Linked DNA regions of Homo sapiens. The protein of the gene in region 2 purifies or fractionates together with the protein of the main gene of each other region. This does not show direct contact. Each region holds a gene or a part of one and is shown on either strand. Other genes may lie near its edges.

Evidence for each region. Proteins that work in one complex are often made in the same cells at the same time.
Region 1: the proteins of KIF25 (region 2) and DDX19B purify together in Homo sapiens (affinity purification with mass spectrometry; one large-scale study listed by BioGRID and IntAct). This does not show direct contact.

What each region holds. Positions count from the first base shown.
Region 1 is NC_000016.10:70,312,686-70,316,185, reverse strand, and holds part of DDX19B (ATP-dependent RNA helicase DDX19B), read right to left. Parts: intron 1,285-3,500; coding exon 1,231-1,284; intron 547-1,230; exon of another isoform or gene 218-546; coding exon 82-217; exon of another isoform or gene 44-81; intron 1-43. UniProt on the Homo sapiens protein: ATP-dependent RNA helicase involved in mRNA export from the nucleus.
Region 2 is NC_000006.12:168,004,171-168,007,670, reverse strand, and holds part of KIF25 (kinesin-like protein KIF25), read right to left. Parts: intron 1-3,500. UniProt on the Homo sapiens protein: Minus-end microtubule-dependent motor protein. Acts as a negative regulator of centrosome separation required to prevent premature centrosome separation during interphase.

The DNA.
Region 1 (3,500 bases), on a different chromosome or scaffold from region 2:
TGGTCAAAAGATATCTATAACAGACCTAGGATCTCTATTTCAGTGCAAAGGGGAAGAGTCAGAAGGTGAATAAATACTCACAGCCGAAGCTCTTCAAAAGACTTCACCGAGTACAGAGGGGAGTTTGGATCCCGCTGCAGGACTTCCACTTGGTTTGTGTTATCAACAAGGTTGCTTCTGATCAGCTTGTTGAGTAAGGACTGGGCAGCTCTGTCCTCTGTCAGGAAAAAGAAAGCAAAGAATTTTAAAAAGTCCTTGAAACCTACCAGGCGTTTACTCTAATTCAACTGCCATTTGTATTTTAAATAATAATGTACTGAACATTCAAATTCAAGGTACGTCATAGTTTTGACTTATAAATTAAAATAGTTTTATTAAAGAAAAAAGTTATGATACATCACCCATTTAGGCCTCATATTCTTTTCCAGACTCTATTCTAACAGCCCTCTTTTCCTGCAGTTATCTATTCCTCCTATCCAGACCCACATATTTACTCCCCAATTTGTACTATATATAAACCTAAAGTAATTAATGTAGCAATCACAACAATAAAAAAAAAAACAGGAATTAACAAAGTCTGTACCTTAATATTGGACAAGTTGGTCTCGTCATCCATGTCAAATGTGTCAAAATAACATTAAGCTTAATTTTACTGGACAATAGAGATGCAACTGAAAATTTTTTATAATGCCCTATTCAACTGTTCAGTTGTTAAATGTAAAATTTCTCTAAACGTAAACCATTAGAACTCCTTCACCTACTGACTATTTATATTGAACTTTTTTTTTTTTTTTTTTTTGAGACAGAGTCTCGCTCTTTCGCCCAGGCTAGAGTGCAGTGGCTCGATCTCGGCTCATGGCAAGCTCTGCTTCCCGGGTTCATGCCATTCTTCTGCCTCAGCATCCCAAGTAGCTGGGACTACAGGCGTCTGCCACCATGCCCGGCTAATTTTTTTTTTTTTTTTTGTATTTTTAGTGGAGACGGGTTTTCACCGTGTTAGCCAGGATGGTCTCGATCTCCTGACCTCGTGATCTGCCCACCTCGGCCTCCCAAAGTGCTGGGATTACAGGTGTAAGCCACCGTGCCCGGCCCCTATATTGAACCTTTATGCTAGCACTGTATCGCCTATTAAAGTCAAGCCAAACTGGGTATAAAAATGAAGCCTCATAACAATCCACTTTCTTAGAATGTAGAAGCTTGTTATTATATAAAGCTCCACGGCTGTGTTACCTTTCTCTTCTTCATCTGTCTTCTCTGCATTGGCATTGGTCTTGACAACAGCACCTTTATAGACACAAAGTGGCCATCATTCAAAATCGCATCCCATACCCAACAGTTGAGACAATTCAAATTCTATGACACTAGAAGTTTTTGTAAAGGCCTGGGGAGCAAAAAATAAATGAGGAAACCGAGCCGCTGATAAAAACATTTTATTGTCCCTAAATAAACAAAGGTGTAAAACACTGTTGCTCACATATATATATATATAGATAGATATTTATTTTATTATTTATTTATTTTTGAGATGGAGTCTCGCTCTGTCGCCCAGGCTGGAGTGCAGTGGTGCGATCTCAACTCACTACAAGCTCTGCCTCCCAGGTTCACGCCATTCTCTTGCCTCAGCCTCCCGAGTAGCTGGGATTACAGGCACCCGCCACCACGCCCAGCTAATTTTTTTTGTATTTTTAGTAGAGACAGGGTTTCACCATGTTAGCCAGGCTGGTCTTGATCTCTTGACCTCGTGATCCGCCTGCCTTGGCCTCCCAAAGTGCTGGGATTACAGGCGTGAGCTACCGCGCCCGGCCTCTGTTGCTCATATTCTTTCCTATTCTAGGTCTCCTCTCCGTACCTCAAAACCTGTTATTTCCCTCATTGAATCAATACTTCTTAAATATTATAGAAAGATTAGAGCAATTAGTGATCAGAAACCACCTTGATGCTCAACAGAGGAATATCTATGCAAATCGTATTTTATCAATAGGTGAACACAATAATGCCATTAAAATTCATGTATATAACAAATGAGCAGTAAGACCAACAAAAAAAATTCATGCATATAAATTTTTTTTTTCTTTTTTTGAGATGCAGTCTCACTCTTACCCAGCCTGGAGTGCAGTGGTGCGATCTCAGCTCACTGCAACCTCTGCCTCCCAGGTTCAAGAGATTCCACTGTTTCAGTATCCTGAGTAGCTGGGATTACAGGGGTGCACCACCACACCTGGCAAATGTTTGTATTTTTAGTAGAGATGGGGTTTCACCATGTTAGTCAGGCTGGTTTCAAACTCCTGACCTCAGGTTATCCGCCAGCCTTGGCTTCCCAAAGTGCTGGGATTACAGGTGTGAGCCACCACACCCGGCCTATAAATTGATTAATATAAATTTATAGTCGAATGATACTGTGGTTATATAAAATCATACAAAAAAGATTTAAGTGAATTTTGAGAAAGGCAAATGTTACATTTCCTTCCTGTAATATTAAGTACATCAACAATAATTTAATGGAAATCTTAACTTTGGATAAATATGATTTCAGAATAATTAGGATAGGTAAACTGTCAGATTGCTCATACTTTGTCTATCTCATCCCAAATTGAGAACATTAAGAAAAAAATTAGTCTTTGTCAATGTAGTCCGATGGTTAGTAATTAGTCCCACTTAAGTAGCCTCATTCTTTGTTCCCCCCACACCCTTGCTATCAGTGTGCAATCCTCATTCTTGTATTAAAAACACTTTGAAACCAGGTGTAATATCTCACTCCTGTAATCCCAGCACTTTGGGAGGCTGAGGCGGGAGGACTGCTTGAGCCTAGGAGTTAGAAACCAACCTGGGCAACACAGGGAGTCCTCATCTCTATAAAAAAACAAAAATACCTGGGCACAGTGGCTCACACCTATAATCCCAGCACTTTGGGAGGCCAAGGCCGGTGGATCATGAGGTCAGGAGATTGAGACCATCCTGGCTAACACAGTGAAACCCCATCTCTACTAAAAATACAAAACATTAGCCAGGCGTGGTGGCAGGTGCCTGTAGTCCCAGCTACCCGGGAGGCTGAGGCAGGAGAATGGTGTGAAGCCGGGAGGTGGAGCTTACAGTGAGCCGAGATCGAGCCACTGCACTCCAGCCTGGGCAACAGAGCGAGACTCTGTCTCAAAAAAATAAAAAATAAAAAATAAAAATTAGTTGGGCGTAGTGGGTTGTGCCTGTAGTCCCAGCTACTCAGGAGGCTGAGGTGGAGGATCACTTGAGTCTGGGAGGTTGAGGCTCCAGTGAACCATGATTGAACCACTGCACTCCAGCCTGGGCAACAGAGCAAGACCCTGTCTCTTAAAAAGTAAACAGAAACAAAAAAATAAATAAAAACACTTTGGTCATACAATCCAGTTTGTTGATTTACAAATCAAATGGTACCAGTATCTGCCAATGCCCTGCCTGGTACAAATACAAATTTTTTTCCAGACAGTTGTTATGCCAAAACAAAAATACTGAAGGAAATCACATTT
Region 2 (3,500 bases):
TTGCACAATTCTTTCCTGAGAAGCAGCTGCAGACCTCCAGCTATTTTCGGCCAGCTTATACAGACTGTGCACAAACTGTGTGTCCTGGAGTTCACCTTTTAACAGAGAGAGCTGGAGACTGTCTCTTCTCAGTTTGCAAACTGATATCACTGATAAAATCCCCCTTTCTACTCTTTAGCCATCCTGGTAGTCATTACCATTGACTGTGGTAATCATTTTACTGATTGTATGGTTTTGTGTTTGTTTTTGTTTTTGTTTTGAGATGGAGTCTCATTCTTGTTGCCCAGGCTGGAGTGCAATGATTCAATCTCAGCTCACTGCAGCCTCTGCCTCCCGGATTCAAGCGATCTCCTACCTCAGCCTCCCAAGTAGCTGGGACTACAGGCGCCCACCACCACGCCCAGCTAATTTTTTGTATTTTTAGTAGAGACAGGGTTTCACCATGTTGGCCAGGCTGGTGTCGAACTCCTGGCCTCAGGTGATCCATCTGCCTTGGCCTCCCAAAGTGCTAGGATTACAAGTGTGAGCCACCATGCTCAGTTGTAAAACTGATTACCACATGTGTCATCCAAAGATGGATGGTAATCATATACATCTGTATATTAAATTATCATGTTGTAGATGTCGAATGTATACAATTTTTGTCGATTTTACCTAAATAAAGCTGAATCAATCAATCAATCAATAATACTTTAAAATAAAGAATTGTAAAAGTTTTTCTTTCTGGGGACATAGTAAGAGCAATTTTAAAGTATGGCTATAACAATTTTCTTGGCCTTTTTAAAAAGTATAAGGCTATCAGTCCGTTAACTAAAACTACCTTTTGAAAAAGAGTTTCTAAAGTTTACAATACGTAACCATCATCAGACTGATTCAGGTGACGGGCCTTGTAGAACCGCATATGGTAATCAACGTGACACAAAATCATCTTCAAAATGGCCATTGTGTCCTACATGACCTGAGATTTTCCTGAATTCAAAATTATCAATGTTAGTGAAGTGTTTAGCATTTCATGTGCTTTCTAAATTCATCTTGTGATCACCATAATAAGCTGAATGAAGGAGAGGCCCAGCATTTTTTTAACTGTTCTCACTGGGGACTTTGTAACGTACACAGAAATGGGGGAAACAGCACAAGACGTCCTCAGGTGCAATCGCCCGGTGCCACAAGTGTGGAATATCCGGCCAGTCTTGTTTCACAGACACTCCTGCAAAACCCACCTCCCTTTCCTCAGCATACTGTACATTCAAAACCAGACAACAGATCGTTGTATTGCTGAGTATTACAGGCTGCATTTTTAAATGATAAGAACACTTTTAAAGCACAATTTGCCCGGTGTGGTGGCTCACGCCTACAATCCTAGCACTTTGGGAGGCCAAAGCAGGAGGATCACATAAGCCAGGAGTTCAAGACTAGCCTGGGCAACATAGTGAGACCCCCCCATCGCTAAAAAAAAAAAAAAGAAATAGAATACAATCACCATGCCATTCATCACACTTTACAAAATTAATGTCACATGGAGAGTGGCAGAACATGTCACCCCAAAATATGCCACTTTGGCATCAGGATTATCTTTACTTAAAGGTTCCTGAGAAGCAGGAGGCTCATGCAGAGCACTCCAGCTTCCCCTCTTCCTCCTGCACTGAAGGCAGGACCTGACCCTCCCATGAGAGCCGCCCTTGCTGGGCCAGGAACAAAGCATGTTCTCGTCAGTAGATGGGGTCTGTGATGGTTAATACCGAGCGTCAACTTGATCAGCGGATTAAAGGATACAAAGTATTGATCTTGGGTGTGGCTGTGAGGCTGTTGCCAAAGGAAATTAACATTGGAGTCAGTGGGGTGAGAAAGGCAGACCCGCCCTTAATCTGGGTGGGCACCGTCTAATCAGCCGCCAGCAAATATAAAGCAGGCAGAAAAATGTGAAGAGAGAGACTGGCCTAGCCTCCCAGCCTACATCCTTCTCCCGTGCTGGATGCTTCCTACCCTCGAACATCGGACTCCAAGTTCTTCAGCTTTGGATCTCGGACTGGCTCTCCTTGCTCCTCAGCGTGCAGATGGCTGTTGTGGGACCTTGTGATCGTGTGAGTTAATACCTAATAAACTCTCCTCTACATATGTATCTATTCCATTCGTTCTGTCCCTCTAGAGATCCCTGGCTAATACAGGGTCGAAGCTGAGCAGCTCTGCACAGACAGACCTGTTAGCACAGCCCTCGCCTTCCCTCTGTCTCCCATCTCATTTGGTTGCTTGTCCACAGTGGCCTCTGCCCAACCCCGCAGGGCAGCGTGCAGGCTGTGCCACTCCTCAACTCTTCATTTTCCGGGGGGCTCTGTGTCAGGTAGACCCCACATTCAACAAATCCGATGCTCTTCCCCGTCAACCTGCCTTAGGCCAATTCCATTCTCAGGCTCCACCAGGGACCCTAGGAGGATAGAGGAGAAGGTTTGCCCCCCTATATACCCAGGACACATTCGGACTTCCCCCACTGTCCCAACAATGCCTGTGACAGTCAGCTCGTGCATGCCAGGCTTGCCTGTGACAGTCGGCTCGTGCACGCCAAGCTCGCCTGTGACAGGTGGCTCGTGCACACCAGGCTCCAAACCAGGACACACTGAGGCTGACACGTCTCATTCTACTGTGTCCTCCTGCCTTTAAAAACAAAAGTTATTACTAGAGAAGCCAGGCAGTCTGTTCTGTGAAATGTCCGCATTCTGGCTTGGCAGATGGTTTTCTCTCCTTTAAAATGACTGTCCCCAAGACTTGATTAGATGCTGGTTTGATTTTGAAGCAAAAGTGCTTCATCAGTCCCACTGTGTCCCACCTGCTGCACCACCTCGGGACATCATGTCTCTGCATCCCAACTTCAGGGAAGCTGCGAGTGCTTAGAGGGTTTGAGGCAACCCTGAACCCTCGTCGTGAAGATCCTATCAACCCCTGAGCAGCGTCCACTCAGGAGAAAGTGCTTAGAGGGTTTGAGGCAACCCTGAACCCTCATCGTGACGATCCCATCAACCCCTGACCAGCATCCTCTGAGGGCCTAGAGTCACCATTTCATTGGGGGTTTCAAATGATGGTTTTCCAGTTTTATCATTTGTTGAGTTTATTACCTAGAATCTTCTGTTCCCTCAAAAACCATGCATCTGCCCTGAGTATGTTTCCTACAGGAAGGACATCACAACCCTTTTCTCTTTCTATCACTTTTTGGAATAATGAGTTGATGTTCTAGCACCCAAAAAATTAATGTGAGGTCTTTTTAAAAACTCATTATTATGAACTCAAGATTGTACATATAATTATATATTTCAATCTGCTTTAGTCCCTCCTTAATCCCCAGGCTTCTATCCCGCGTTGAGGGAGTGCCTGCCGTGGGCTCCATGTGCTGGGACAGCCCCCGTTCTGTTCTGAGGCCTCCCTTGCTGTTCAGCTCCCCAAGTGCCCCAGGCTCCTCCCACCCACTTCCTTTCCTGGCCCAGATGCGAGGTGTCAAATGAGCTTTTCTC